Homo sapiens: one gene and its partners. The protein of the gene in region 2 interacts with the protein of the main gene of each other region in a biochemical or structural test. Each region holds a gene or a part of one and is shown on either strand. Other genes may lie near its edges.

Region 1 (11,829 bases), on a different chromosome or scaffold from region 2:
CAGCTCCGCTGTGAAGTACCAACATTTTCTTACTGTGACCATAAAACTCCATTCAACAGAAATTACTAAACATTAAATACATGTACTAATGAGAATAGAAAAGAAATAATATCTGTTGTGAGAGATTTAGAGGCTAATTGGGCTAAATCTGGCTGCCCAAAGCTCAAAGACACAATCTGCATGGTAAAGGAGCCTAAACTTAGGGGAAGAACATCAGGAGGAAGAGTTGGCCTGGGCAAATTGAGTTGAATTGTGTTTGCAGAGTAGAGATGAAAGATGCCATTTCTAAATGGATGGAACAGCATGAACAAGAGCCAAGAGGAAAGAATGTGTAGATTGTGGAGATGGGCCTGGTTGAAGCAGACAAGATACAAACAGGGATAAATGGATAAGTGAGGGGAGGGTAGATGGGTAGTTGGCAAAGTGTTTGGGTTTATTCAGTTGGAATTGGCCAGCACAAAGTTTGAGAGACAGGATTATACTGAGGTTTTGTAGAAAGAGACAGCATCTATGAATATTAAGTGGTTCTCCTACATCCTGGGGCAGATTAGATCAGTCTTGACTAGCACAGTGGTTCTCATAGCAACACTTCTCTTTTGATTATACTAGCTTCATTATTTATTTTATTTTATTTTATTTTATTGAGACGGAGTCTCACTCTGTCACCAGGCTGGAGTACAATGGCGTGATCTCAGCTCACTGCAACCTCTGCCTCCTGGGTTTAAGCGATCCTCCTGTCTAAGCCTCCCGAGTAGCTAGGACTACGGGCACACACCACCACACCTTGCTAATTTTTGTATTTTAGTAGAGATGGGGTTTCACCATGTTGGCTAGGATGGTCTTGATCTCTTGACCTCATGATCCACCTGCCTGGGCCTCCCAAAGTGCTGTATTACAGGTGTGAGCCACAGCACCAGGCCCCAAGCTTCATTTATTAAGAGAGTTCTCACTGGCTAAGCATTTCACAGGCATTATCACATTTGATTCTCATCACAACCCTGGAAAATGGGTATTTCATCCATAAAAGATGAGAAAAATGTGGCTTAGAGAAATTAAATAACTTGCTTATGGTTATCCAAGTTGGGCTTTGACTTTGTAATCCATGTTTCCTCCTTCAGTTTGCCTGCTATGTTCGCTGTTAAATTTCTCAGGTCTTCAGTGCTTCATGGATGTGCTCTTAGCAGTAGATTTCAGTGAAGTGATTACCATTTCTGATTTGGACTTCATATTTCTGCTAATACAACATATGACAGCTTATGCAGTACCTTTTTAGCAAGCAGAGCCTATGTTGTCTTCCATGACTTTTGTGTATCCCCAAAACCTAGGTGTCATTCACAAGAACTTTCAACAAACCAGGTCTCTCCCACATTAAATATACATAACTTATTTCTTGAACCCAAACACAGAACCAGACATTTACCTATTTTGAAATGGTATCTTTTTGTTTTGGTTTTCCACCCTTCCAGCCTAGAACAATCTATTTAAATCCTGATTCTGTGAGCTCACCAGTAAGCCATCTACAGAGAATAAGCAGGTGATACAATCACACAGATATCCTTTGGGGAGATAGAGGCTCAGGAGGCAAACTGATAATTTCAGAAGAATTTAGAGCCCACCCACCTAAATTCCCCAGAGAACATCACATAGTCTTTTGAGATGAACTTAGAAGACTCCTTCCCTCCTGGAGAGACGCCTTGGAAGAACTAGACTCTTCCAGGAAGCTCTCCCAGGGCAGGGCTGAAAGGGAAATGCTGAGACCTAACAAACAATAAAGACAATGCTTGGAAGGGAGCATCTGTGAAAAAAGCAAGCTCCTCCCTCTGAGAATAATTCCAAAGGGTGTCTCCGATCCCAGCTTTCAGACCTCCACCCTTGATTACTCAGACTTGACACTAGCCTTCTGAGACCAGCCCTAACAAGGGGGTTTCATCTGGGAGCACTTCCCTGACCTTACAACTGTTTCCTCTGCCACCCCAGACAAGATGTCTGCTATCTCTGAATCCAGTTGTTATTTAAAATGTCAAGTGACAAGGGCGGGCGTGGTGGCTCATGCCTGTAATCCCAGCACTTTGGGAGGCCGAGGCGGGCGGATCACTTGGGGTCAGGAGTTCGAGACCAGCCTGGCCAACATGGTGAAACCCCGTCTCTACTAAAAATACAACAAATTAGCCAGGCATGGTGGCGCACGCCTGTAGTCCCAGCTACTCGAGAGGCTGAGGCACAGAATCACGTGAACCTGGGAGGCGGAGGTTGCAGTGATCTGAGATCACTCTACTACATTCTAGTCTGGGTGACAGAGCGAGACTCCATCTCAAAAAAAAAAAAAAAAAAGTCAAGTGACACAGTAAAGAGGTATGAAAGCATGAGACTAGAGACTTCCTATTAGATCATTGTTGATCACGTAGAAGATACTATGATAAATCACAGTGATTTTTTTGTTAGTTTTCTACATATACAACTTTTTAAAGAGAACAGCCTGGTTTTATGAGGAAGAGTAGGGAAAAGCTAATATAATAGAACCTGTTTGAAAGCTGAAGTTAGCAATGATTCTCAATTCAGAAAAGGAAAGCAACAGAATCTAGGAGTATTTGTAAGGAGCTTCTGAGAGCTACACATCCCCTCCAGCCCTCTTATGGGTAAACAACTCTGTCATCCAGAGCCACCTTCACTAAAAAAAAGTGGCTTTTTTTTTTTTTCAGTCTGTGGGTTCAGAAAAAAGAAACAAGAAACAACCCACTGGACTAGAGAGATAAACCTTTAAGCCATAAGCCCCTTGCTCCACTGCTTTAGTCTACCAGGAGTTTGACTAGAGGAACGGGCTCCTATGGCTGTGGACATTATCTAGCTGGATTCTTGTTGCAATTATCAAGCCTTGAGCAGTCATGCTCATGGAGGCTTAGACTAGGAATGCAAGCTACGATCAAGACAACAGACCTACCTCAGAAACTAACCTTGCTAGTGTCACCCTTCCTAACAAGAACATGAACCTACTTCCTCTCCTTGGTCCTCTGCCTTTTAAAGGCAGTGCTGTTTTTTCCAGGGATCTGAGGTCTAGACATGGAACAAGTATTTTGGCTACATACCTTTTTGTTTGATTTTATGACAATTCTTCTAAGCCTGTATTGCAAAGTGCTATAACACAGTTGCTTTAGGAGTAAAAAAAGTGAATGAAAACAGTTGTGTGTGTATTAACCTACAAAGTACCTCAGAGAAACTATAGACACCTGGGCTTCACATCACTATAATCCCTGGTATAGAGTAAGTTCCAGATTTCATGTCACTGGTAAATAATGGCACTCAGAAAAAAAAAAATCAAAAATGGAATCATGATAATTATTTGAAGTACATATTATTGGAGAAGTCAACATTATTTAAACAATTTCCACATAAATACTGAAGCCACCTAAAATCTTTTAATTTTTAGCAACTTGTGTTACACATTCTTAAAGAATATTATTAAATTCTCAAAATATTGGTTGTTGAGAGCTATAAAACAAACTGTATTCAACTCAGTTATTTCATTGGATTTGTTTTTTGAATATTTAATAAAATAGTTCAAACACCTAGAAAATATAGCAGATACTTATGTATACTCGAATCAAATTATATTAATATGCCCTATATCCATGAAGTTTAGTGAATTTTCCCAAATTCATCTCCAATATCAATTCGATTTTCGTTATTAAAATTAGAATGTTTTCAAACCGAAGGGGAGAGACTGATGGCAATGATAAATGTATTTGTGATATGTAGTTCAGGTTTGGATACTGCCTTCTACCTATGTCACATAGGCTGAGTGAGCTACAGAGGCACACCACTATCTGGAGTATCTAAGCAATAAACACGCTGAACCCAACACACTGGCCAACCACTCCTTCACTCTACAACAGGCTTCATATACTCTCCTGTGTTAAAGATTTTGGTAACTGCCTAAATTTTTGTTTCATTGGGCCAGTAAACCCTTTATGAATTACTACATGGCAAACATTTTTTAAAATAAAACAAAAATTCTAATAGCCCCAATCTCCCTGACCCTAACTACAAGAAAAAAAAAAAAGCCTACAATTTCATTGCTTTGCTTAAAATAGGATGTAGATATAAAATCTTTTTACAGAAAAGCATCTTTGTTCCCTTTTAACAGTGACAATCTATACACTGCCTTAATTGGGCCCCTGTATTTCTCAGCATGAATTTCATTTTTTACTGAAGATTTTCTTTAAAGCAGGTAAAACCGGTTTGTTCTTTAAAAAAAAAATCAATAAGAAAAACACTCCAGAATGAGGAGCAGGAAAATAATGCATGATAGTAAGGGGATCTCTTCAAATAAGATGATTTAATCGGTCCTCAAAGAGTTTCTAACACAGGGGCCAATCACCCAGAAGACAAACTAGCAAAATCAGTTCATGCCACAGAGCCTTTGCATTTCAATCCTTCCACACATATTGACTGGAGACTCACAGAGAAATGGTGCCTTTGCTACAGCCACCCCTTGTTCATCAGCACTGATGAGATTTGGGGAGAGCACCCAGAAATCACTAACTCTGTTTTTTAAAATACTAAATTAAAAAAAATAAAGCCAAACCTTACCAGAAAGGAGCAAGCTGACTCCACAGAGAACTAAGCTGGCTAAAGAGTCCATGCTTCCCCAAATCTCTCCATCCAGTTTCCACAAATGTGCATGAGGTCCCAAGGATCCTTTCAAAAACCCAGCGGTTTGTGACTTTCCATTAGCATCGTCCTACTACGTCTTGTTTACAAGTTAGAGGCAAGAAGGAACAGCACAGAAGCAGGCTGTAACAGTCTCATTTCTGTCTGAGCACAGGGAGTTTTAAGTTCCTTTTTCCTGTTTCCTTTGTAGATTAGGATGGGAAAGGCTGTATCTTAAAGGCATTTGGTATCAGCAGGGCTGGGGGCACTCAAGCCCTATCCATCTCGCAATTCATCAAAACACTTATCTGTTGCTGTTGCTTCTGCTGCTGCTTTTGCTGCTGCTGTAGGGGCAGAGGAATTTTTGTTGGAAGTGTGGGTCCCGGTCAGCATTTTCAGAAACAATAGGGGTATCCTCTCATAGGCGGGAAACTGAGAATAACAAGCCCTCCACCTATGTATGGTATGCGATGATGACCAATCCTTCTCAGACTTCTAACAGCTCTCCCGGGGCTACTGGGATCTCTGACAGAAGGAGCTTTTGGGTGTGGGAAGCCGTTTTGGCTTTTGTTTTCTCATTTTAACCCACATGGTTTGAATTGGGAGAAGAAGGTTTCCGTGATGAGAAAATACAACCTGAAAAGCAATTAATTTCAGTGAGCACCGGTGAGGTCAATGCTCAATGTAGCCCCAAGAGACCAGAGTCCAAAATTGTTAGCCTGTTTTCTTTCACACAGATGGCCTGTTGGTTGGCCATTAGCCCAAAGATACCCATGTTGCCGGCTATAGCTTTAATTTTCATTAACAATTCATCTAAAGGTGATCAAATTTCTTGAAGAAGTTGGCATAGAAGGATTTTGGTAATGAGAAAGATTTGGTAGTCATTGAGCAATGGTGTTTCAGAAGCAAATTATATATAACATTTAAAAACTAATCTGTGTAAAAACACAAACATACAGGATTAGATTGGGATAAAAATGGTGCTCATGAGAGCAAAGAGAGTTCATGGACCAAAATGAAAATAGCCATGGAATGTACAATATCTAGAATGAGGTCAGAGACCCTACACTTATCCAGATAATTACTCCACAATATGAATTATGACATTAGATTAGAGAGTATACACTTTGCTCATCATCGACCTTCATGCCTGAGGAAATCATTATACTCCTCCTTTTCCTACCCACCAGAGGAAAAGGCAGATGCAGCTAGTCTTGACTAATTTCTGTCCCAGGTTTTATCACATCGATGATGATCTTAAGAACCAATTAATGTTTCCAGTTTGCAGGTGTGAAAAAGCCCAGGTTCTGTCTGCAAACAGAACTGGGTTCAAATACTGGCTCAGCCACATGTGTAGCTGAGAAAAGTTACTTAGTCTTTTTGAGCCTCAGTTTCAACAGCTGTGAAATGGCAAAAATATCTCCTTCCCAGGTGTTTTGAGAGGAATAAATGAGGTTTAAAAATATAAAACCATTTGGTACTATGCCTAGTTCTTTGAAGGTTCTCATTAAATGTTAATAAGTTTATTTTCTTTCATCTTTCCATTCAGTCTCAATTTAAATTCCAAGAGCTTCTACTAAAAAGCTATTTTCTATTCCTATGAGATGACTTTAAATTTGTCATCACGAAAAAAAAAAACAAAAACAGTGGGCCTGGCACAGTGGCTCACGCCTATAATCCCAGCACTTTGGGAGTGGATCACCTGAGGTCAGGAGTTTGAGACCAGCCTGGCCAACATGGCAAAACCCCATCTCTACTAAAAATACAAAATTTAGCTGTGCTTGCTGGCGTGCACCTGTAACCCCAGCTACTCTGGAGGCTGAGGCAGGAGAATTGTTTGAACCTGGGAGGCAGAGGTTGCAGTGAGCCGAGATCGTGCCACTGCACTCCAGCCTGGGTGACAGAGCAAGACTCTGTCTAAAAAAAAAAAAAAAAAAAAGAAAAAAAAGAAAGAAAAATGAAGTTCCACACAGGCTAAGTTACTTGCTCTGCTGTGAGTAGCAGAGGTAATAATATCTGAATCCTGAGCTCTGGACCTCCAATTTTTCCCTTGTTTCATAGTTGAAAAGTAGATCAAGAGTAATGTAGGACATCACAAACACCAGCAGGGTACACCTAGACCTTACAGAAGTATTTGAAATGAAACTTTGACAGATAAGAATAGTTTGGTGACACTGAGAAGTGCGGTCAGTTCTTAGTGTGCTTCTGAAATAACTAATGTCAGGATCGGTGGGTGCTGTATTAATTCACTTCAGGAAAATGAAAGGGGCCTCCTCATGAGTCAAGCTCATTCCATTTAATTTGATTTTTCCAGACATACCTACAGTAAAAGCATAAAGAAAACCAAACCAAACTAAACAAACAAACAAGGCTCTTGGCTGATTCTTCATTTTCTATTTCCTGCTTTTTGCACTCAATACATGAAAAACACTATAGACAACATTAAAAGTCTTTGAGACTAATTAACAAAGGTATCAATAGATAACAAAACGGTTTTTCTGAAAGAGGTGGAAAATAACTTACATAATACTACTATACACTGGTATCACATGTCAAGAGGTCAACATCACAAACACAAAGCAAAAGCCTTGTATGCATACCCTTTGGCCCAGAAAATCCAGTTTTTTTTTTTTTTGAAATAGAGTCTCACTCTGTCGCCCAGGCTGGAGTGCAGTGGCACTATCTCGGCTCACTGCAACGTCCGCCTCCTGGGTTCAAGCGATTCTCCTGCCTCAGCCTCCTGAGTAGCTGGAATTACAGGCGTGCACCACCACACCCGGCTAATTTTTATACTTTTTAGTAGAGATGGGGTTTCACCATATTGGCCAGGATGGTCTTGAACTCCTAACCTCATGATCCACCCCCCCCCCCCCTTGGCCTCCCAAAGTGCTGGGATTACAGGTGTAAGCCACTGCGCCCCACCAGAAAATCCATTTTTATGATATACACCAAGCCAAAATCAAATATGTGCCCCCAAATTTGTGTATAAGGACATTATAGAAGCATAGTTGATAATAATCAAAGCCTAGAAATAATCAAAATGGTCAACAAAAATGGATTATTTATTAAAAATCATGGTATACAATGAAGTTCCAGACAAGTGTTCAAATACTATGGTGAAATCAGATTGACATAAAAAGATGTGAAAATGTTTATGGTATACTGTTGATTGGGAAAAAAACACAATTTAAACAGAATGAAATTTATACACACTGAAATACACACCACAGATATACAACAAATAAATATCAAAGCGTTGAAAGTGACTATTTCTGAGTTGTTGGAAAACATAATTTTTATTTTCTTTTTTATACTTTTCTATAATTTTAACACTTTTAGAAATAACGAACATATATGTAAAAATGAAGAAGACTGAGGGGACGTCCTTGAGAAAGTTGACCCAGGGCAATAGGATGTATACTTTAAAACATCCACTGGCAAATAAGAAACAGAATCCAGGCTACCATATGACCCAGCAATCCCACTGCTGGGTATACACACCAAAGAAAGGAAATAAGTACATCAAAAATACATTTACACTCCCATATTTGCTGCACCACTGTTTACAATACCTAAGATATGGAAGCAACGTAAGTGTCCATCAATAGATGAATGGATAAAGAAAATGTGGAACATCTACACAGCAGAGTACTATTCGGCCATAAAAAAGAATAACATCCTGTCATTTGCAACAACATGGATGGAACTGGAGGTCATTATGTTAAGTGAAATAAGCCAGACACAGAAAGACAAACATCACATGTTCTCATTTATTTGTGGGATCTAAAAATCAAAACAATTGAACTCAGGGAGATGGAGAGTAGAAGATGGTTACCAGAGACTGAGAAGTGTTGTGGGAGGGTGGGGGAGGTGGTGAGGATGGTTAATGGGGACAAAAAAAGCTACTTAGAAATAATGAATAACACCTACTATTTGATAGCACAACGGGGTGACTATAGGCAATAATGACTTCATTGTATATTTTAAAATAATGTAATTGCATTGCTCATGACACAAAGGATAAATGCTCGAAGGGATGGATACCACCACATTCTCCATGATGTGGTTATTTCACATTGCATACCTGTATCAAAACATCTCATGTACCCCATAAATATATACACACCTGCTATGTACCTACAAAAATTTAAAATTAATAAATTAATAAAATAGGATAATTTTAAAAAGAAACAGAATCCAGATACATAAAGTGTGGCCTCCAGGAGGTGACCAAGAAGATGGGGTGTCAGCCACCTACAGTACAGCCCGGACATTCTGTCTTTCACTGGTCTGTGGGCACTGAGCCACCAGAGCCATCCCATCTGACTTCTTAAGGACATTAATGAACTTTTTTGTGAACCCACTGTACATAACAGTGGCTAGCAGAAAAGGAAGGGTCAGGCTAGGCATGGTGGCTCACGCTTATAATCTCAACACTTTGGGAGGCCAAGGAGGGCGGATCACGAGGTCAGGAGTTCGAGACCAGCCTGATCAACATGGTGAAACCGTGTCTCTACTAAAAATACAAAAATTAGCCAGGCATGGTGGTATGTGCCTGTAGTCCCAGCTACTCAGGAGGCTCAGGAGAATTGCTTGAACTTGGGAGGCGGAGGTTTCAGTGAGCCGAGATCACACCATTGCACTCCAGCCTGTGGGATGGAGTGAGACTCCATCTCAAAAAAAAAAAAAAAAAAAGAAAAGGAAGGGTCATCAACAATTAAGTTTTGGCCTTCAGCCAGGACACCACAGTTAAAGGGACAACATCCACTCTGGTTTGGCTGTGGAAAATACCTGACCCTCTCCAAACCCCATTTACTCTAAACCCTCTCAGCTATTGCAGCATTTTTCTTTTTCTTTTGTTAACATTGAAACGGCAAGGACTATATTATTCACCGTAGGAAGAGACACAGAAATAGAAGATGTTGTCTCTGCTTTTGAAGCTCATAATTACAAAATCCCAGCGTGGTGGCACTGCATCAAAACAGGAAAAGTTAAATCACAAAATCAGGCATTGTGCTGTTGAATACCAAAGGGTGGTACAAGGAATAAAGTTCTAGCAGTTGTTTGCTTTTGTACCCTTTAGACTAGAGAACACCAATTCTCATACTTTTTTTTTTCTTTTCCTGGTATTTCCTAGACACAGGTGGCATCTTTCCAGATAGACTGTAAGCTCTTAGGGCAGGAGCTCTGTACTTTATTTCGAATCATCCTATGCCTTCTCTCAATGGCTTAAGAGAAGGAGTAACCTGGATGTCTTTGCAACCATTGTGAGGTCATGTGGCCGCAGATAACATAGACTAGGTATAGATAGAATAGATAGGACACAGATACAGGTATTCCCCTGCCTTGAAAAAAAAAAAAAGCTTTAAAAATGATAAAATAACATGAAAAGAAAAAGTAAACTCCTATTCCTCCTTCAAAATACAATCCAGGCCGGGCACCGTGGTTCATGCCTGTAATCCCAGCACTTTGGGAGGCCGAGGTGGGCAGATCACTTGAGGTCAGGAGTTCGAAACCAGCCTGGCCGACATGGTGAAACCCCCGTCTCTACAAAAATACAAAAGTTAGCCAGGTGTGGTGGTGCATGCCTGTAATCCCAGCTGCTCAGGAGGCTGAGACCGGAGAATCACTTGAACCCAGGAGGTGGAGGTTGCAGTGAGCCGAGATCGCGCCCCTGCACTCCAGATTGAGGACAGAGTGAGACTCTGTCTCAAATTAAAAAAAAAAAAAATTCAAATGTCATCTCATCTATGAAACCTTCCTCTTGGTAGCTACCAATACCTAACAAACCACCACATAATGTAGCAGCGTAATACAACAATCATTTATGTAGCTCGTGACTCTGTGGGTCAGAAGTTCGGGCTGCCCTGCACAGTTCCCCTGATCTCAGAGGGCCTCCCTCATGTGTTCACAGTCAATTGTCAGCCATTAAGGTAGTTCAGCTTCAGGTATGGGCTGACTGCCTGTGTGGCAACCAGGATGGCAGAGCTTTAACTCTCTCACCTTCCAGCAAGCTAGTCTGGCTTCTTAACGTGGCAGGCTCAGAAATCCAATAGAGTGGAAATAGACAAGTTCTCTTGAGGCCTAGGCTTAGGATTAGCATATCATTACTACTGTACATTCTGTTGGCCAAATCAATTCATATCACTCAGACTGCATCTAGGAGCGGAAACATAAACTCCACCTTTTGATTTGAAGAATTATAAAGTGTGAAACTAAAATAAAATCAAGAATTTTGGTCATTTTTTTCAAAAAGGTTTGTTGGAATATAATTTATATACAGTAAAATTCACCACCTTTTCAGAAAATTGTGGTGAAAACATACATACCATAAAACTTACTATCTTAACTGGTTTTAACTGTACAGGCCAGTAATGTTAACTATACTTACATTCTTGTACAACAGATCTCTAGAACTTTTTTGTCTCGAAAAACAGAAACACTATATCCATTGAACAACTCCCCATTTCCCCTCCCCTAACCCCTTCGACCACCATTCTACTTACCTCATACAAGTAGAATCCTGCAATATTTGTCTTTTTTATGACTAGCTTATTTCACTTTGTATAATGTCCTCAAGGTTCATCTAAGTTGTAGCATGTGACAAGACTTCTTTCTTTCTAAGGCTGAATAATAGTCCATCATATGTATATACCACATTTTCTGCATCCATTCATCAGTCCGTGGACATTCAGGTTGCTTCCACCTCTTGGTTGTTATAAGTAATGCTGCAAAGAACATGAGTATGCAAAGATGTCTTCGAGATCCTGCTTTTAATTCTTTTGGATATCTACCCAGAAGTGGGGTTATGAGATTATACGGTAATTATATTTTTAATTTTTTAGGAATCTCCATACTGTTTTCCATAGCAGCTGCTCCATTCTGTGTTCCCACCAACAGTGCACCAGGGATCCAATTTCTCCATATCCACTTGCTGTTTTCGGGGTTTGTTGTGGTTGTTGTTGTTGATGATGATGATGTTGTTGTTGGATAGTGGGAATCCTAACAGGTATGAGGTGGAAATTCACTCCATTTAAGTACACAATTCCGTAACTTTTGGCAAATGCATACCTTGGTATAATAAGTGCTCCAATCACCCCAATATCCGTCACCCCAAAAGTTTTCTTAAATCCCATTGTAGTAAAAATCTCCTCCCCCAACGAACAGCCACAGGGAATCACT
Region 2 (11,005 bases):
GTGAAGAAAAAAAGCTGCCAAAGTCAGGGTTCTGGAGAAGGCAAAATCTACCCACTGAACAAGCCACAGGCCTGTGAATCAGGCAAGATGTTGTTGTTCACATGCCGGTTCAGGATAAGGCCATAAGATCCCCCAGCTCTCTCTAATCTGGGTGCAATTAATGACAATCTGCCCATCTTCTTATTCTCCCAACCCAAGGTCTCAGTGGCAAGGACTGGGACACTTTCAATGACTCTAAATTAACACTAGGTGTCTAGAAATCAGTGAGGATGGAGGATGTCATCGGTAAACTCTTGGCCCATGAAGACAGGGCAGGAATTCTAGAATTTCAGTGTGCCCCAATTCTCTCTTTTCCTGCAGCATAATTGGGAGTCCAGAGGAAATTTCTTCTGCCCTAGCTGGACTCAATTTCTTAGTCTGCAGAATGAGTTGGCACAAGTGGATATACAGTAAAATGTCTCCCTCCCAGCCCTGTCTCTCAGCCACCCACCCAAGCCAGAGGTAGCCACTGTTCCTAGTTTCTTGTGTATCCTTCCATTCATTCAACCAACAATTATTTTTCAAACTCTTTTCATGTGTCAGGCACTATTGTAGACACTGTGGATACAGAAGTGAACAAAGAGACAAAAGCCCCTGTCCTCGTGAAGCTGACATCCTATAAGCTGACATTCCAGGGTTTCTTATGAATATGCAAACACATACATACAGAAGATTGCTAACTTACAATGGTTGGGCTTACAATTTTGTGACTTAACAGTGGTATGAAAGTGATACACATGCAGTAGAAACCGTACTTTGAGTACCCATACAACCATTCGGTTTTTCTCTTTCAGTACAATATCAATACCTTACATAAGCTACTCAACATTTTGTTATAAAATAGGTTTTGTGCTAGATGATCGTGCCCAATCACAGGCTAATGTAAGTGTTCTAAGCATGTTTAAGATGGTCTAGGCTAAGCTAGGATGTTCAGCAGGTTAGGTGTATTAAATGAGTTTTTGACTTAGGACATTTTCAACTTACGATGGCTTTATTAGGACATAGCCCCATCATACATTTTGGAGCATCTGTACATTCCCATTTTTATCCTTTTTAAGCCCAAATGTAGCCTACTACTTGTTTATACCTTGTTTCTACAAATTATTATTCAGTTACCTTGGAAAGATTCTATAACTGCATGACATGCTTGCTCATTTTTTTCTCCACCTTTATAATGCTCCACCATATGTGGTCCCTGCTTTTATTCCTCCAGTCCCCAGTTAATGGATATTGAGGTTGCTTCCAGCCTTTTACTAATCCAACCAGTGATACGATGAGTAACATTTCCATATCTCATTTCACACACATGTGAGTAAATCTGGAGGATAAAATGTCCAAAAAGAAAGAGCTGAGTCTAAGGCTTTCTTTTGAAAAACTCCTCTTTGCTTCTAAATCCATTACAAAAAATGTCTCTTGATTATTATAATATCATCGGACAACAGGAACCTGTACAAAATAAAAGTGAAAGTTGGGCCCTCCATCCTGCCCCCATCTTCCTCCTCTCCATCTTCATCCACTCAAACCTGCTCTGCAGAAGTCACAGCACTTGAGGGAATTTCTTTCATATTCTTCCCAAACACAGGCACCACTGCGGTCTTTCCAGCCTTCTCCTATATGTTCACCCCATTTCTCTTTATTTACATTAATACTTTCTTTCTTCTCTTGCCACACATGGGGTTAGGCTTGATGTGCCCCAAGTCCTGGGCATCTTTCCAATTCTGTGCAAATGCCTCCTCCTTCATGACTGCGGAACATTTCCAGGGACGCCAAAACGCAACGGATTCAGCCAGTCCTGGCTTTTGGGCATCTAGGCTATATCTTTTTTGGTTGGTTGGTTAGTTTGTTTTTCTATTACAAGCAAGTCCCCAGGGCCATTCTTGACCATGCTCCCTAGAGGATAACTCCTGAGAGTAGACTGCTGGGTCAAAAAGCAAGCACAGTTGGGATTTGATAATAGCTACCCAGTTGCTGGTGTCCCTCCCACACCACCTCTTTCTTCCACTAAACCTCAATCTATATTACTCCAGGGCCGGGTATCTCTTTTCTCCCCTCCTCAATCTGTGCCTACAGTGGGCACAGGACGTTCCACCACACTTGAGTCTCATCGTCGGGCTGCAGGGACTCCAGGGCCGGGGAGGCGCGCGGGGGTGCGTGCTTCGCGAGGATGCCAGGCTCACCTCTGTGCGCCCCCTACCCCGCAGCGCGCTCGAGAAGCGGTTGCAGGCCCTGGAGACCAAGCAGCAGGAGGAGCTGGCCAGCATCCTCAGCAAGAAGGCGAAGCTGCTGAACACGCTGAGCCGCCAGAGCGCCGCCCTCACCAACATCGAGCGCGGCCTGCGCGGTGTCAGGCACAACTCCAGCCTCCTGCAGGACCAGCAGCACAGCCTGCGCCAGCTGCTGGTGTTGTTGCGGCACCTGGTGCAAGAAAGGGCTAACGCCTCGGCCCCGGGTGAGTGAGCGGTGTGCGCCCCAGTGTGGCTAAAGACGGGCAGGAGAGGGGAGGGGAGACCCTGCTCACCCTCCAGGGTCTCTGGGCGCCTGGGAGCCATTGCGGGCCCCACCCTCCCCGACCATCTGTGAAATAGAAACAACAATAAACAGTAATAATGGCGTCAACAACAATCCCAATCCAGGCCCTGTCCCCTGATTCCATGGGTGACCTTGGGCATGCCCCTGCCCCTCTCTTGGCCTCAGTTTACCCATGGGTTTTGGAGGCGAGGATGAGGGCAACAGCAATCCAGACTGACAAGTTTGGTCTCCAGGATTCATTCTCCAGCCCCACTTTCTTGGGCTTGTCCTACCCCTCCCTGGGCCTCAGTTTTCCTGGCTGTAGAATGGGAGGAACTGGGAGGTTAGACTCAATGCACCCCAAGGACCTCTCTCATCTTAATGCCCCTGCCCCTAAGCCCAAGAGGGCCAAACAGAAGTGAAGAGGCATCCCTGGCCCTGGCTTCTGGGTCAAGAAAACAATTCTGGGCTGGGCTCCCAGGCTCTCACTGACTCCTTCTAACACGGCCTACTTGGGGTGTCCAAGGCATTCTTGGCCCCAGCTGCAATCACTCAGTCAACAAACATTTACTAAGCACTTACTGTGTGGCAGGCCCAGTGCTGGGTGCTGGGGATACAGCAGTGAATGCACAGTCACAGCTCCTGTCTCTTGCAAAAATGTCCAGTCCCTGGTTTACGGGTCCCAAAGGGAAGGAGAAAGAAATACATGGTTTTTGAGTGCATAATATGTGCCAGATGCTCAGCTATCAGTGTTCCTGAAGTTTCCAGACCATAAAAATAGACAGGTCCAAAGGCTGTGCGAAGGAGAAGGGCTCTTAGCCTGAGGCTAGCAGGGGGCATGGGAGGCTTTTGAACAGAGTGGGACTACTTTCAAGAAGCTCTGACTGGAACCATGAGTGGAGATGTCCTGATGAGAGAGAAAGACCAAAGGGGCTACTGCTGCTCCTGGATCCATAGTGGAAGGCTGGAAAGCCTTTAAGACCCAATAGTGATGGCGCTCCCGGCACCACCAGGGCTGACAGGGATTTGAGGGCAGAAGATTCCACCCTGGCTCCATCTCAGTCTGGCAGACCCAGCTGAGTAGGGGTTTGAGGCCTAAGGAAGCTACAGGTAGGAAAAGTAGACACCTTCCAAATCGCGACATGTGGATTAACCTGAACCTATTACTGGCGTATGCACAGACCTGGCCTTGAGCTGCCTGAATTCATCCCATGTGTGGGTTTCTTGTAGCTCAGCCCAAGGCACAGGGCCTGGGCCCAATGCCTCCCACTAACCCACTGGTAACCCAGTCCCCAGATGAGGCTGAATGTCTGCTCAATCGTCTGAGTAGGAGGTTGTGTTGGGCACCTCACCTTGGGCACCTTTTGCCCAAACACCCTGTCCCCCGTGCTCCACTATCACCAGGGAAGGACACTAGGCAGTTGCTTTCACCCCCTTCTGGATGGAGAAACTGAAGGAGAGGCTCAGTCACCAGGTGTAGAAGAGAGGGCTGGATGGAGATGGGGCACAGGAACCAGGCATCCTTGAAGTCTAGCAGGAAGGGAGCACTAGCTCTCTGCATGGCTTTGTCCCAGTCAGGTGGAGGCTAGTGAAAGGAGAAGAGAGTCAAGTCTTCTGATGTTCCCAGGCACTGGGGAGTTTGGTTCAGAAGGTTACAAGGACATGGGCACAGGCAGAAAAGACCAAACTTGTGCATGATATAAAAGCAGCGATTGTTCATGCAGGCTGTTTGCCCAACCTTACATATGCTCAGTGGTGGAAATCCAAAGGAAGATGTGTAGGAGGAAGGGCACTGGCTTTGCAGTCAGATGGGCCGGAGTTCAAGCCCTGGCTCCTTCACTTATTAATTAGCACTGGAACTTCATACAAGTCATTTATTTAACTTCTCAGAGCCTCAATTTTTCTTACTTGTAAAACGGGAATAATAATCTCATAGAGTTCTTGCACAGAGAATCGGATGAGTTCATGCATACAAAAGGGTTCAGCACAGTGCCTATGCACAAAAGCGAGGGAAACTGGTACAAATTACCAGCCCAGATATTCAGAGGAGGACCAGATCAAACTGTTGCATATCAATATCAGTCCATCCTATTCTTATGCCTCCCAAAAATATTTTTCCTGGCCCCAAACTACCCCTGGCATTACATGACACCTTGGAAACACTACAATACATGGTGAGTATTTCACTTTTTGTGTTGATATTATTGTTGTTATTGTTATTGATATTGTTGTAGACTAAGGAAAATAACAGTGAGCAGAGCCTTGGAAAGGGTGGCTGGAAATCTCAGGCCAACCCTGGCTCTGTCCTTGCCTTACTGGGTGAGGTTCAGCCCATCCCTGCTCACCTTGAGGCCAACAGCCTCCTCATGCTTGGCTGGACTCCAATTCCCTGTGGGGAGCTGAGGGGGTGCCAACAGGTGGGGCAGGGGTCTCCACTGCCCAGGAAATGCTTGTGAGTGAACTGGAATTGATTTGGGGGTCTTAGTCATCTCATTTGTGACATGAGAGCAATAGCCTTCTCTGGACAAGTGCCCCAGATCCAGGATCTGGGATCCCTGAAGTTCAGATGTAAAGCCAAACCAGGAAGTCCCACCCTGTGGTAGCCTCCTGGTTCCTCACTGGTGTTGACAACCTATCCATCTGGAATTTTAGCCCCATCCTGGGTACCTGGCTACCCAGAGAGATTGGATTCTGGTAGAATCATAGTTCAAACCTCTAACTGGATTCCACTAATTGAGACAGAGGAGATTTTAAATCTCTGCACTTTGTTTGTCAACAGTCACTTTTTCCAGGCCAGGCCTAGAAACCCCTGGTAGGTTTTAGTCATTAATACTATCCCGATCTCATGTAGTCCAGAGGGAAGAAACAGGGGCCCTTTAAGGCCAGCAGTCAGCTTCAAGGGAGGACAGAATAAGGGAGCATATGCCCAGGGCAGCAGGGAGATACAGCCAAAAGGGTGGGCTATGAAGGGGAGCCCACAGCTTCCCACCCAAGGGAGCTCCAAAGAAGGAAGGTTCTGCCTTACCTGGCTGTGTGCCCTTGGGCCAGTTGCCTCACTCTTGGGCCTCAGTTTCCTGGTCTGTGAAATGGGAAGTGCCTCACTGGAGTTCAGGCCCCAGTAACTCTCTCCCAGAAAACTCTAGCAGCCTCCTCTCTGGCCTCCCAGCTTTGAGTCTCATCCCCTCCAGGCCCCCCTCCACACTCTGGACAGAGTGCTCTTTCTCAGCCCAGAGAATCTGGGCTCCGCAGCCTGGCACTCACGGCTGACTTGGCCCTGCTGAAATCTCAGCTTCGTCTCTCCTTTTCCTTCCCCACCTTCTCTGTGCCAGCCTTGTTCTACCCTCTCAGTTGCATCATACAGCAAGCAGCCTCCCTGGTCTCAACTCCTCTCTCACGGTGTGAGTCATTTCCTCTCCTTGGCCTCAGCCTTAGTTCCCCTCCCCATGCCCTGTCCTCTGCACACACTAGGGCCCTTCCTACCTTGGGGCCTTTGCATATGCTGTTTCTTCCGCCTGGAACACCTTCCCCTTCTCCACTGGGCAACTCCTGCTCATTACACAGGTTCCAGCTTACTGTCACCTCCTCTACGAAATCTTCCCAGGTCTGACTCATCTCCCTGTCCCCAGCACCTCCCAACCCAGAACCTGGCACAAAGCAGGCAGGCATGCCCACTTGGCCCCTTCTCTCTTTCCTTGCCCACCTCCAACTGACTTTTGTGTTGTCCCTTTGCAGCCTTCATAATGGCAGGTGAGCAGGTGTTCCAGGACTGTGCAGAGATCCAGCGCTCTGGGGCCAGTGCCAGTGGTGTCTACACCATCCAGGTGTCCAATGCAACGAAGCCCAGGAAGGTTAGGGGGCTCCCTGGGAACTGTGGCTGTTAGAGGGTGCTGAGCCAAGGGCTTCCCAAACAGACACCCCGCACCCCATCGGGATCAGGCTTTGTCCAGTATCTGAAATACCAGAGGTGTAGGGGTGGCTTTGACTTCCCAGCAGTCAGGGATCAGATTGTGGGGATAAGCAGAAGTTCCCAAAGTTGGAAGTGCATCCTTAACCAGCATCACTTCAGAGGTGCTTTAACTGGAACAGCACAAAATAGTTCAGTGTTGGTTAAGATGATGATAGCTGATATTACAAACAACCCCCAAAATTCCAGGGCCTTAGCCCAAAGACGTTTCTTTCTAGTTTACATATAGTCCAGTTGAAGGCAGGAGTTGGGGTTCTGCTCCATGTGGGAAATTAGAAACCAGGGCTAATAGAGGTGCCACCATTTTCAATCAGTGGCTCCCAAGGTTGTCCTAAAATTTAAGGTCAAGTCATCCGATAAGAAGGGTGACAGAGAAGAGCACGGATGTCAGGAGGGAGGGTCTGAGAGCCAGGCCTAGAAGGGAAACAACTAGCAGATTCCTACTTCATAATTCCCTTTTTTTTTTTGAGACAGGGTCTTGCTCTGGTGCCCAGGCTGGAGTGCAATGGCATGATCACAGCTCACTGCAGCCTTGACCTCCTGGGCTCGAGTGATCCTCCTGCCTCAGCCTCCCAAGTAGCTGGGACCACAGACACATGCCACCATGGCCTGGCTAATATTTTTAAACATTTTGTAGGGACAAAGTCTCCCTGTGTTTCCCAGGCTGGTCTGAAACTCCTGAGCTCAAGCGATCCTCCCTCCTCGGCCCTCAAATTGCTAGTATTACCATTGCTCTATTTCCTTTCACCCCCTCTTAATATACTAAGGAGAATGCCTCTGTTTGTCTCCAGGTTGTCTTTTACACTTCTCACACACCTGCTAACCTCTCCTTTCAACAAAAAGAGGTCGAGCTTCCGTTTACCTAGTACTGCCAGGCACTGTTCTAAACACTTTACGTGACTCATCTCGTTTAATTTTCACAACCCCAGTTGGTAGATGAGAGACTGAGGCACAAAGAGGTTAAGGTATGAATCTCCATTTTACAAATGAGAGGAAGGCTCTGAGAGGTCATTCCTTACCCACCACTTTAGAAAAATGATGACAATGGGTGGGGAATTTAAGCCTGGATCTTTCTGATGCCCAGGACCCCCAGGCTCACCTGTTGCTCTGTGGGGGTCTGTCTGCTTAGCCACATTTGGGCTAGCACAGGCCTGGCCTCTGGCTACCTCCAAGGGCTCCCAGCTGTGCCTTGCCCACCCCCTCCAGGTGTTCTGTGACCTGCAGAGCAGTGGAGGCAGGTGGACCCTCATCCAGCGCCGTGAGAATGGCACCGTGAATTTTCAGCGGAACTGGAAGGATTACAAACAGGTAGCCCTGCTGCCTTGGGGAGGGGCCATTCTGCTCTGAAACCTGGGGCTGGGGCTGGGCTGTTGGAAGGGGACTGCTTTGCCCTCATTCCTCCCCCAGAAAAAATCAACTCATCTAAAGCTGACAGTGCACATCTGCTTTATGGGACCCCATCACCTGAATTTGAATGTTCTTTCTGAAAGTTCTGACATATGTTCTAAGAAAAAAAGTTTAGCTTTATTTTTGTTTTAATTTTTTTTAAAAAAATACATATACATTTCTAATTTTTTAAAGAATACAAAGGAGGAGACAGAATAAAAATCCCCCCAGTCAACCCTGACTGCGTTGCTTTAATGAAGTTTCTTGTCTTTTCATACGTCTATGATCATATCTGCAGGAGAGATTCATTAACGAGGAATTGCAGGCCCAAAGATCACATGTATTTTATCAGATGAGAAGCCCGATTGTTTTCCAATTTTTTAATTAGGTTTTGAATAAAGGATTTTTTGCCAAGCTGACTTAAAATACTTAAAAGCTCTTAAAGTTTTCAAAGCCAAAGAAATAGAAAAAGATACCCACAAAGTGATACAGCAGTTCTATTATTTGCGTCTGCTTGCTGTTCATTTAAGGAATACTTAAAAATAAATACCAAATTAAGTTATGAGTGTTTTGAACTAATTGGGCTTTAAACAACCATTAAAATGGCAAGGAGGAATAGGGTGTCCAGGTGCAGAAATACACAAAAGAACCCTGAATATTAACCATCAGGCTAACCCGCATTGCATCGTGACTAAATTGGGGAGCGGGCCTTGGGTGTGCCCCTGTCCTTGGTGCTGAATTCTTGTTCTGTCCAAGGGCATTGGGACATGACATTCCCCACACTCTCAGTTTTACATTTCTGTGTTGCTGAAATCTTGCAGTGGCTGCGCTGTCACTGAACAAAGTTTGCTCTACTATTTATGTAGCTGATTGAAATATTTTATTTAATTTTTGTTGAGGTTTAACGTACATGTGTCTAAGCGCACAAATAAAGTGTAAGGCTCAGTGAGCCTTTAGATATGTATTTAACCACGTGACCACCATTCAGTGCTAGATGTACAACACTCCCAGCACCCCAGAAGCCCACTTTGTGCCCCCTCCCAGTCAATACTCCACCAAAGGTAGTCACCAAATATTACTTTTTCCTGTTCTTGAACTTCAGAGGAATGTGATTTCAATAACTTTTAACAGGCTTTTACACTTACAAAAGCCTTAGTCTTTTCCCTCTAGCAGGTGGAGGGCTCCTACTCCCAGTCCTGCCTACACTGTACTTATGAACTCGATCATTAAGCACAGTGGTTTTGTATAAGTAGCCCTGGAGCCTGGCCCAGCCCAGCTCCTCAGCCAGGGACATGGCCTCCTCCTCAGCATGAGTCTCACCCCACGCTCCCCTCCCTATAGGGCTTCGGAGACCCAGCTGGGGAGCACTGGCTGGGCAATGAAGTGGTGCACCAGCTCACCAGAAGGGCAGCCTACTCTCTGCGTGTGGAGCTGCAAGACTGGGAAGGCCACGAGGCCTATGCCCAGTACGAACATTTCCACCTGGGCAGTGAGAACCAGCTATACAGGTGGGTTCGGGGCCCAGGCCGTTGTGGGGGCTGGGGTCTTCAGCTAGTGGGCGGGCTGGGGTCCCCAGGCTAGTGTCTACAGAGTCTGCTCCAACGGTCAGTCTCTGGGTGTCTCCTGTTCCTACCATCTGTCCCCCATTTGGGTGCACGTCATGGGATCTGGAGGTGGCTGGTTAGCACTCAGCATGTCCTAGCCACTGGGTGGAGTGGAAAGAATGTCATTGGTGCTGCCATCCGAGGAGCAAGAAGGGGTCTTCCAAGGTCAGTCACCCCAAGTCAGCCTTTTTACAGAGACCCAGAAGCAAAAGGAGGTGACTTGCCCAGCCTGTCCTATGCCCTGGGGCTGGGTGGAAGGGTCCCTGGGCCAGAAGTTGAAATTCCTGCACTCATTGTGGCCTTGCTCCAGCTTGCTTTGGGAACTTGGACAAGTCAGTCTGGCTTCTCTGAGCTTCTGCTTCTTCAATAGCAGGATGAGCTTAAACATGACGATCTTGTAAGATCATCAAGGTTTCTCACCCCTTCCTCAGCCTGGTTCTTGGTATATTTGGGAAAAGGAACTAGCATTTATTGAGCACCTACTGTGTTCCAGGCACCATTATTCCATTTAATCTTCCCCACAACACTTTGAAGTAGGCATTACTGTACCTACTTTAGTAATATGGAAACTGAGATGCCAAGTTTAAGTATCCTGCCCAAAGTTACAAGTTAAATGAGCTGGAATTTGAACTCAGATCTCCCTGCTGTCAAAACTCATGATGTCTCCACAACATGATATTGCCTCTCAGAGAAATTTAAGGATCTTTTAGATAAGCCTGGGTCCTGGCTATCTCTGAACCAGGATTCACACTCACAGGGCTGCAAAAAATCTCACGTGTCATCTGGTTCTTCATAGATTCCCTCCATAGTTGCAATCATCATCCAGCCGTGCTGGAATACCTCCACTGGTGGGAAGGTCGCTTCCCCACAAGGAATCTCTGAATGACTCTCTGTCCTCCTGAACTTTATGCCTGATTCCACTTCTGGGAACTTCTCAGTGATATGCCCCCACTGTTTCCTCCAGCTGAGTCCCATTTAAGCCACTGGCCACCAAAGCAAAGGCTTTTTTGAGGCAGGGTCTCACTCTGTTGCCCAGGCTGGAGTGCAGTGGCATGATCACAGCTCACTGTAGCCTTGACCTCCCAGACCTCCCAGGCTCCAGTGACCTTCCCACCTCAGCCTCCCAAGTAGCTGGGATTACAGGCATGCACTACCATGCCCAGCTGATTTTTGTATTTTTTATAGAAACAGGGTTTCCCTATGTTGCCCAGGTTCTGACATCCCTCCTTATGGGATCCATACCAACCTGATAATGCAAGGTCCAGAGCTGAATGAAAAATTCCCTGGATGTCCCCCTACTCCTCACACCTGACCAGTGAGTAGCTACAACACTATGCTGAGTCCCATTTAAGCCACTGGCCACTAAAGCAAAGGCTTAAATCCCGACTCCATCCCTACTTCCCTGAGTGACCCTGAGCAAGTCCCTTCACGGTTTCATCTGTAGAATGGGTGCTTTAGGCATACCTACCTCAAAAAGGGTGTGATGAGGCCTGAATGAGATACT
Region 3 (9,632 bases), on a different chromosome or scaffold from region 2:
CTCAGCCCTTGCCCATCAAGCTGGACTTCAGTGCACTTAGGAAGCCCCACCAGAAGGTCTGTCTTAACCCTGCTTCCAGTTCTCATATTGGCAGTTTCTTTGGTCCTGTTCACTTATTTCCTTTTCCCACCATCAGCCCCACCCAGATGGCCTCCTCCTACTGAGTTAGGAAATTGGACATTCCTCTTTGTTATAGTCTTGCTATTTTCAGGTCCTGGCCTGATTTTAGAGCTATGGAGAAAAGCCAAGTGTGTGGACAGGGTAATCTCTGCTTCTGCTACTGTGGAGAAAACCCCTCCACTGGCTCCCAGCAGCTCAGGGCTGAGCATGTAGTAGGTGCTCAATAAATGTCCCCTGGCCTACTCCCTAAGGCTGGAATCTTCTCCAGAGCTTCCCTGGTGACCCCCAACAACAACAACAACAAAAAGCCTGGTTGTAGGATTAGCACAGTCATAGGAAGCTCATTCCGATCCTTTTCTGTTTTAAATGTTAGAAATATCCTCCTTCCATTGACTCACATTGTGGCTTCTAGCAACTTTACCCACAAGCCCTGGTTCTGCCTTCCAGAGTCCCGTACACTAGATCCCCTGGCTGCAGCCTCTGCATTTCTCTCCTTGGACATCTGTCCACCCAGCAGCCTACCTGTGGCTCTGTTACCTATGATTCTGTCTCAGTTATGTCCTCTGTCTGCCTGTCTGTCCCTGGCTGACCACCAGGGTGCCCTCCATCTGGGTCTCTGCCCACTTGTCTGACACTGAAACCTCCTCGTGTGCCTGTCTGTGCCTCCTTCCGCCCCCTTTGACTCTTGCGTGGACCGTCTGCCCTCTTGTCTCATCCTGTGAAGGGCGAGGAGACCATCCTGCAGTTCAGCTCAGGGACCTTGACACTTACCCGGCGGCCAAAACTGCAGCCCGAGCCCCTGAGCTACCCAGTGCTAGAGTGGGAGGACATCACCTTTGAGGACCTCATCGGGGAGGGGAACTTCGGCCAGGTCATCCGGGCCATGATCAAGAAGGACGGGCTGAAGATGAACGCAGCCATCAAAATGCTGAAAGGTCCACTGGGGCGACCCCTGGCCCAGCCCTGATGCTCTCCTTTGTCCCACAAATCCCAGGCCCCACCTGGCTTCCTCCAGCAATTGACCCCAGCCCTTGCCAGCCCTTTCTCCAGAGTTATTTCTGGCAAAATAATATTGGATTCTTTACACAGAGTATGCCTCTGAAAATGACCATCGTGACTTTGCGGGAGAACTGGAAGTTCTGTGCAAATTGGGGCATCACCCCAACATCATCAACCTCCTGGGGGCCTGTAAGAACCGAGGTGAGCCCCCAGCTCATCACCTACCCCTTCTTCCAAACCCCCATCCTCAGCCATCACCTCCACCACATGAGTAGCTTGCCAGGGGCTGCTGGTGACCTGTGCACCACCCTTGATCCTCCTTCATCCCTGTCTGTTACCATCGGGTGCCTGCTCCCACCCTAGGTTGCCTGTGTCTAAATCACCACTGTCTGTCTCTTTGCCTCTCAGGTTACTTGTATATCGCTATTGAATATGCCCCCTACGGGAACCTGCTAGATTTTCTGCGGAAAAGCCGGGTCCTAGAGACTGACCCAGCTTTTGCTCGAGAGCATGGGACAGCCTCTACCCTTAGCTCCCGGCAGCTGCTGCGTTTCGCCAGTGATGCGGCCAATGGCATGCAGTACCTGAGTGAGAAGCAGGTGTGTGTGAGTGGGGGCGGGTGGAGGCCAGAGGGGGAAGCCACTGGGCTGGTGTCAGTGGAAGAAGTCAGCCGGCCCTGATTGTATCTGGGGATTGAGGTTCCTGGCCCAAGTGTGTGGGTGGGTGCAAGCACAGCGAGGAGGCAGGGCCAAGGGGCAGGTCTGGAGGAGGTGGGGACTTCCAGTATGGAGGGTGCGGGTGTTGAGTGAGCAGGTCTAGATGCTAGCCTGGAACTCAGGAGAGAGGCCCAGGCTGGAGACAGCATCTGTGTGTGAGCTGTCACCCCACAGATGGTGCCTAATGGCAATGGGCCTGGTGCGATCTGCCGGAGAGGGGGAAGGGCAGAGATCCAAGCCCAAGTCAACTCAGGCCTGAATGAGAGGACAGGGGGATGACTGTCCAGGGGAGTGTGAGTCTGAGGGAAGGCATTTTATCTTTTTTTTTTTTTGAGACTGAGTCTCACTTTTTTGCCCAGGCTGGAGTGCAGTGGTGCGATTTCAGCTCACTACAACCTCTGCCTCCTGGGTTCAAGCAATTCTCCTGCCTCAGCCTCCTGAGTAGCTGGGATTACAGGCATGTACCACCACACCCAGCTAATTTTTGTATTTTTAGTAGAGACGAGGTTTCACCATGCTGGCCAGGCTGGTCTCGAACTCCTGTCCTCGAGTGATCCACCCGCCTCAGCCTCCCAAAGTGCTGGGATTACAGGCATGAGCCACTGCACCTGGCCAGCATTTTAAAGATAGTAAAGTTTTGAGTATGTTTGAAAGCAGAGGGGCAGGGGAAGGGGCCAGTGCAGAGGGAGGGGCTGGTGGAGAGAGGTCTCTGGGGAAGCTGGAGGGCTAAGGGAGAGAAACTGGAACCCAGGGGATGGGAAGAGGGAGGGGGAGAAGCATGGAAAGAGGAGAAGGTGCAGTATGGCCACCACTGTCTCAGGAAAAGGGATCCAGCCTGAACTTGGTCAGGGCCCAGGAACGAGCGGGTGAGAGCCAACACTGATCTTTCTCAGATATGAGTCAGCTGACGAGATTGCAGCCAGGAGGGTAGGAGTATGGGGTATTGAAGGTAACAAGGGTACCCACGAAGACTGACTCCTTACTGGCCTGACTGTCCTGGGCTCCCTCATCCCCAGTCTCTCCTGACTTCTGACCCTGCCTACAGTTCATCCACAGGGACCTGGCTGCCCGGAATGTGCTGGTCGGAGAGAACCTAGCCTCCAAGATTGCAGACTTCGGCCTTTCTCGGGGAGAGGAGGTTTATGTGAAGAAGACGATGGTGAGTCTCATTCAACCCTCACCCTTAGGGCTTGTGCCTGGCCCTGCCCCACAGGAGCCTCAAACAGGCCCTTCCTCCACACTCAGCCCCTCAAACCCATTCTCTCCTAGGGGCGTCTCCCTGTGCGCTGGATGGCCATTGAGTCCCTGAACTACAGTGTCTATACCACCAAGAGTGATGTGTGAGTGTGAGATGAGAGGGCACAGGAGGGCTTGGCCCCCAAGAATCACCCAGGCCTGACCTAGACATATCTCAGAAATGTCATAGGTGGTCTAAGGCATGACCTGGGCTGTGTTCCAGGTGTGACACAGGTGTGTCTTGGGTATAAAGTACCTAGCCAAGGTGGGGCTTGCTGGAAGGAGTCTTGGAAGGTGTTTCAGGAATAGGACTGGGGTAAAGGTAGTTTCGGATTATGTTTGTGTAAGTGACGGGGGATGCCTTGGAGAGGTTTGGGAATGCTGGCGGATGCTTCCTGAGGTAGATGGAGAGGCCACTCAGGAATTGCTCTCATCTTCCTCCCTGAAGGGCAAGGTCATGCCCACCTGAGGATCTTACCAGAGCATGACCCCCAAGACTCCCTCTCTGTGCCCCCTCCCCTGCAGACAGCCCTCTTGGCACACTCCTCCTGTCTCTCCAGGGATGTCCATCTTGATCTGAACCTACCCCTTGCCCCAAGCCCTTTGGCCTTGCCTGCATGGCTCACTGCTTACCACACTGATCACTCCTCTGACCACTACATGCCTACTTCGTGCTTCTGCCCCAACACTCCCTTGATTCCCTCCACCCCCTTTGAACTCTCTCCCCTGGTCTCAGGGCTGATGCACACTACACAGAGGCTGTTAAAGTGTGAGATGCAGTCAAGAGTAAGAGCTTTGGAGCCTGAGTTGGAACGCTTGCTCTGCCACTAACTAGCTGTATGGCCTTGGGCAATCTAGCTAACCTCTCAGTGCCTCAGTGTCTTCATCTGTAAAATGGCAAGACTAATAGAACCTGTATCATAGGGTTGGTGTGAGGGTTAAATGAATTAACATGTCTGTTAAATGACCAGGGCCTGGACCACGGTAAGTGCTCAATAAAAATGTTAGCTCGGCTGGCTGTGGTGGCCCACATGTGTAATCCCAGCACTTTGGGAGGCCAGGCAGGCAAATCACTGGAGACCAGGAGTTTGAGACCAGCCTGGGCAAGATGGCAAGACCCTGTCTCTACTAAAAATACAAAACATGGCCGGGCGTGGTGGCTCACGCCTGTAATCCCAGCACTTTGGGAGGCCAAGGCGGGCAGATCACAAGGTCAGGAGATCGAGACCATCCTGGCTGACACAGTGAAACCCCATCTCTACTAAAAATACAAAAAGAAATTAGCCGGGCATGGTGGCGGGCACCTGTAGTCCCAGCTACTTGGGAGGCTGAGGCAGGAGAATGGCGTGAACCCAGGAGGCAGAGCTTGCAGTGAGCCGAGATCTCGCCACTGCACTCCAGCCTGGGCGACAGAGCGAGACTCTGTCTCAAAAAATAAATAAATAAATAAATAAATAAATAAATAAAAATACAAAACATTAGCTGAGCATGGTGGCACACACCAGCTACAAGGGAGACTGAGGTGGGAGGACCACCTGATCCTGGGAGGTTGAGGCTGCAGTAAGCCACTGCACTCCAGCCTGGGTGACAGAGTGAGACCCTGTCTCAAAAAAAAAAAAAAAAAAAAAACAAAACAAAAGAGCTCTAATTGTGCTGAGCCCAGGGATGGGGGCAGTATGAAGGAGCTTCATTGGCGCAGAGACAACAGCTGGCCAAGGCCAGATACTTACAGAGTAGACACATACAGCGGGGCTGGGAGGCACTGCACATCTTGGGCAGGTAGAAGCTAAACTGCTAGGGACCAGGGCCTAGAAGGTAACTAAGTGCATCCTTCTTATTTCAGCTGGTCCTTTGGAGTCCTTCTTTGGGAGATAGTGAGCCTTGGTGAGTTCCTGATCCCCGTCCCCCAGAGTGCCCCACCTTACCCCACGTGGAGCCCTGGACCGAGAGCACTTTGTCCCCTCCTGCAGGAGGTACACCCTACTGTGGCATGACCTGTGCCGAGCTCTATGAAAAGCTGCCCCAGGGCTACCGCATGGAGCAGCCTCGAAACTGTGACGATGAAGTGTGAGTCACCCCATCCTTGAGCTCCATGATCCTATCTCTGTGATGAGTGACCTCAGCTTTGATCCCTGTGACCCCATCACCCCAGCTGGCCTGACTCCTCATCTCAGCAATGCCCCCTCGCAGGTACGAGCTGATGCGTCAGTGCTGGCGGGACCGTCCCTATGAGCGACCCCCCTTTGCCCAGATTGCGCTACAGCTAGGCCGCATGCTGGAAGCCAGGAAGGTGAGGAGACTGGGGCTGAGGTGGCGGGCTGGGCTCACAGAGTGCTCCAGAGTGCCCTCTCAGAGGTGCCATGACCCCTGTCCCAACCACACTGCCTGCCCAACCTCCCTCAGTGGGGGCTGTCACCACGGCTAGGCTGGGCCCCAGGATGCAGCCTGCCTTTCCAGCCCTCACTGGTTTAGACACCAGGCCCTTCCAAAACTCTTCCAAGGCCACTGCTTAGCCCCAACAGCAAATCCCTACCTTAAGCCCCAAGTCCCAGACTGCTTGCCTGTCCTCTGCTGAGGCCATCAGCCTGTCCTCATCTGGGACACCTCTCCCCACCTGCCAGAGCCAGAGCAGAGTGCATGAATAGTCACTAACCAGATGGATGGATGGGTGAATGAGTGATACAGTAACCGTATGAATGAATGAATGGAATTAGTGGATAGATGATACAATAATCATATGAACATGTAATTCAATAACTCAATCTACTAACCATGTGAATAAGTGAATTATCAAATAAATATAATGAAAAATATATCAAAATTAGTAAATATGAAGAGTTCTTCAAGTAAATTAATGATTAAATAACCATCTTAAGAATGAAGGAATGATCAAATAACCATATAAATGGATGAGTCGTCTAAAATGGCTTTTGAACAGATAAGTTACTGAATGAATGAACGCATAAGCCAAGAATTCATTGAAAGAGTGCATGTAAAAACCCTCCTCTAACAATGGCATTGAGAGCCTCTCACCTGAGGCCCCAACTGTGGCCTGATGCCTTCACTGCCCTGGGCTGGTAAAGGCCACTCTTGGCCATGGGGCCATCTTAGGTCTCCAGAACAAATCAGTGTCAGTTCAAATGCCCCCACCACATGGAAGTCCAGGAGCTTGAGGCCAGATGCACCCCCATTCCTGGCCCCCACTAAAGCTTGCTCTGCCCCCAGGCCTATGTGAACATGTCGCTGTTTGAGAACTTCACTTACGCGGGCATTGATGCCACAGCTGAGGAGGCCTGAGCTGCCATCCAGCCAGAACGTGGCTCTGCTGGCCGGAGCAAACTCTGCTGTCTAACCTGTGACCAGTCTGACCCTTACAGCCTCTGACTTAAGCTGCCTCAAGGAATTTTTTTAACTTAAGGGAGAAAAAAAGGGATCTGGGGATGGGGTGGGCTTAGGGGAACTGGGTTCCCATGCTTTGTAGGTGTCTCATAGCTATCCTGGGCATCCTTCTTTCTAGTTCAGCTGCCCCACAGGTGTGTTTCCCATCCCACTGCTCCCCCAACACAAACCCCCACTCCAGCTCCTTCGCTTAAGCCAGCACTCACACCACTAACATGCCCTGTTCAGCTACTCCCACTCCCGGCCTGTCATTCAGAAAAAAATAAATGTTCTAATAAGCTCCATTCAATGTCTACCTTTTACTGCTGGTCAATCTTGGGGTGAGGGGCGTAGTTAAACCCAAGAGACAGAAACTGGCCGGGCGTGGTGGCTCACTCCTGTAATCCCAGCACTTTGGGAGGCCGAGGCGGGTGGATCACGAGGTCAGGAGCTTGAGACCATCCTGGCGAACATGGTGAAACCCCGTCTCTACTAAAAATGCAAAAAATTAGCTGGAAGTGGTGGCGGGCACCTGTAGTCCCAGCTACTCGGGAGGCTGAGGCAGGAGAATGGCCTGAACCTGGGAGGCGGAGCTTGCAGTGAGCCAAGATCGCACCACTGCACTCCAGCCTGGGCGACAGAGCGAGACTCCGTCTCAAAAAAAAAGAGACAGAAACTGGGCTTTCTAGGAAAAGAAACACTGTCTGAGGCCTCAGCCCTCTGTTGAGGTTGCCTGTCCAGGATAGGAGGTGCTCTGGAAGACTCATTTTACACAAACACCACCAGCCCCTACCTCTGTCCTGATTAGAAGGCCAGTTTTCCCCTGTTCCCTTCCCTGCTCTCCAGCTTCCATCACTAACGTGTCTCCCTGTGTATCTCTAGGTAGCAGCCAGCCTAGGATTCTTTGTTCTGTCCAAATAGTCCATGCCAGGATCATCTATAGCCAGCCTCAACTCTGCCTGGCATCTCAGCGCCAGACGGATCCTGGCCTGTCTAGAGTTTCCTTAGGTGCCTTCTTCTTTACCTTATGCCTCCAGGCAGCCTTCCCTGGCTTGGTAGCCACTTCACTGCCCAATGTATGAGCCCAAAAGGAGGAGGGCAGAGGCCACTCCCAACTTCAGCCAGCCAAGGTAGGATTCCTTTGCCATCTTCAGGGCCTCATAGTGCTGTGAGAGGTGCTTCTCTCCTGGTCCTGAAAGTGAGTCCCACACTACTCCATGCTGTGCAGCCTCTGGACTTGCCTACTGTTTGGATTGCTCATGGCTGGCCTTAGATTTCTCTCCTATTGGTCCTTAAGAAACAAGATTGATTGTGTTTTACACATTTTTTCAGTGAATCAGAAGACATCAAAGAAGGCATAACATGGTGTGGCACTGTGATGAAGAGCACAGGTTCTAGGATCACACCAACCTGTGTTCAAGTCCCTGCTATGTCACTTATCATCTGTGTGGCCTTGGTCAAGTCTCTGAGCTTCAGTTTTCTCATCTAATTAATGGAGTTAGTAACAGCTACCTCGTTGTTTGTGTTAAATGAGACCACACAGGCCCATCTTTCACAGCACTGGGCCTGGGCCATAGTAAGTACACAGTGTCAGCTGATATCATTATATACAAATGCAGGAAGCTGCAGGGAGGTAATGATTAGGATCTGTATTCTGAAAATACTTGGATGGTTGGAGGAGGATGAATTTAAATGGGAGGCTACGTAGGATGAGGGAGATGGGAACTGCTAGAATAAAACTTCATTTCAGATCCACATTCACTGCAGGGATTTTGCCAGGTCCAGGCTGTGGAGATTAAACCATTGTCTTTGATGGAGACCAATATGTAAACAAGGATGCCTCTGTGAAGTGACAGCTATGTTAACAAGCAACAAAATACAGCGGTGTATGCTCTAAGAGAGCGGGGGAAGCTGGGGAAGGCTTAAACAGGAACTGGAGTCAGAACAGTTTCCCAGAGAAAGTGATGTTTTAATCTGGACCATGAAGAGGAAGCAGGGTTTCACCAAAGGAAGAGACCCTGGCACAGGAAACAACACCTGTGATATGTGGCATGTTCAGGAGCTGCAAATAGTTCTCTGTGGCTGGAGCAAAGGGAAAACAGGGTAATGAACCCAGAGAGGTGACGGATGCCAGGCTATGCTGAGCCTTATAGGATATGAATCTTTATCCTAAGAGCAGAGGAGCCACAGAAGAGCTATAAGCAGGGGTGAGTCATAATGAGATTTGCATTTTTTTAAAGTCACTCTGGCTACCCTGTGGAGAACAGATTATATAGGAAAAACAGTAAAGGTGAGGAGCATGGCTATAAATTAGAAACCTTAGATGAGATGAATAAATTCCTAAAAATACACAAACTACTGAAACTGACTCCAGAAGGAATTCACCAATCTAAATAGACTTAAACAAAAAAAGAGATTGAATTAGTAATAATAATTAAAAAAAAAAAACACCCACAAAGAAAAAGCCCAGGCCCAAATGCTTCAATGGTGAATTTTACCAAACATTTAAAGAATAAATACAAAAACTCTATACAAACTTTTCCAAACAATAAAAAACGAGAGAAGGCTTCCCAATTTATTCTGTGAGGCCAGTATTACCCTGATACCCAGAACAGACAAAGATTGCACAAGAAAAGAAAACTACAGACCAATATCTCTTATGAATATGGATGCAAAAATTCTCAACAAAACACTAGTAGGAAGAATCCAGAAACATAAAAAAAAGATTATACATCATAATAAAGTGGAATTTATCCCAAGAATGCAAGGTTGGTTTAACATCTGAAAATCCATACACTATATCAATAGACTAAAAAACAAAAACTACATGATCATTTCAGCAGACACAGAAAAAGCATCTGACAAAATATAACACCCTTTGTGATTTAAAAAAAAAAAGCTTTAACAAACTGCAAATGGAATCTTTGTTAATCTGATAAAAGATGTTTACCAAAAAAAATACAGTTAGCATCATATTTAATAGTAAAAGACTGAATGCTTTCTCCCTAACATCAGGAATAAGACAAGGATACGTGCTCTCCTCACTTTTATTCAACATCATACTGGAGGTCCTAGCCAGAACAGTTGAGCAAGAAAAAGAAAGAAACAACATCCAGACTGGAAAGGAAGAAATAAAACTCTATTTGCAGATAACATGATAGTATATATAGAAAATCCTAAGGA

What was found.
Region 1: the proteins of ANGPT4 (region 2) and TEK form a complex in vitro, tested with the Homo sapiens proteins (2 studies listed by BioGRID and IntAct).
Region 3: the proteins of ANGPT4 (region 2) and TIE1 form a complex in vitro, tested with the Homo sapiens proteins (one study listed by BioGRID).

Annotation. Positions count from the first base shown.
Region 1 is NC_000009.12:27,102,401-27,114,229, reverse strand, and holds the start of TEK (angiopoietin-1 receptor isoform 1 precursor), read right to left. Parts: upstream 5,006-11,829; 5' UTR 4,640-5,005; coding exon 4,588-4,639; intron 1-4,587. UniProt on the Homo sapiens protein: Tyrosine-protein kinase that acts as a cell-surface receptor for ANGPT1, ANGPT2 and ANGPT4 and regulates angiogenesis, endothelial cell survival, proliferation, migration, adhesion and cell spreading, reorganization of the actin cytoskeleton, but also maintenance of vascular quiescence.
Region 2 is NC_000020.11:876,561-887,565, reverse strand, and holds part of ANGPT4 (angiopoietin-4 isoform 1 precursor), read left to right. Parts: intron 1-2,240; coding exon 2,241-2,488; intron 2,489-6,279; coding exon 6,280-6,395; intron 6,396-7,717; coding exon 7,718-7,819; intron 7,820-9,238; coding exon 9,239-9,405; intron 9,406-11,005. UniProt on the Homo sapiens protein: Binds to TEK/TIE2, modulating ANGPT1 signaling. Can induce tyrosine phosphorylation of TEK/TIE2. Promotes endothelial cell survival, migration and angiogenesis.
Region 3 is NC_000001.11:43,316,355-43,325,986, forward strand, and holds the end of TIE1 (tyrosine-protein kinase receptor Tie-1 isoform 1 precursor), read left to right. Parts: intron 1-844; coding exon 845-1,055; intron 1,056-1,209; coding exon 1,210-1,320; intron 1,321-1,527; coding exon 1,528-1,718; intron 1,719-2,880; coding exon 2,881-2,994; intron 2,995-3,104; coding exon 3,105-3,175; intron 3,176-4,914; coding exon 4,915-4,955; intron 4,956-5,041; coding exon 5,042-5,138; intron 5,139-5,261; coding exon 5,262-5,361; intron 5,362-6,296; coding exon 6,297-6,368; 3' UTR 6,369-6,754; downstream 6,755-9,632. UniProt on the Homo sapiens protein: Transmembrane tyrosine-protein kinase that may modulate TEK/TIE2 activity and contribute to the regulation of angiogenesis.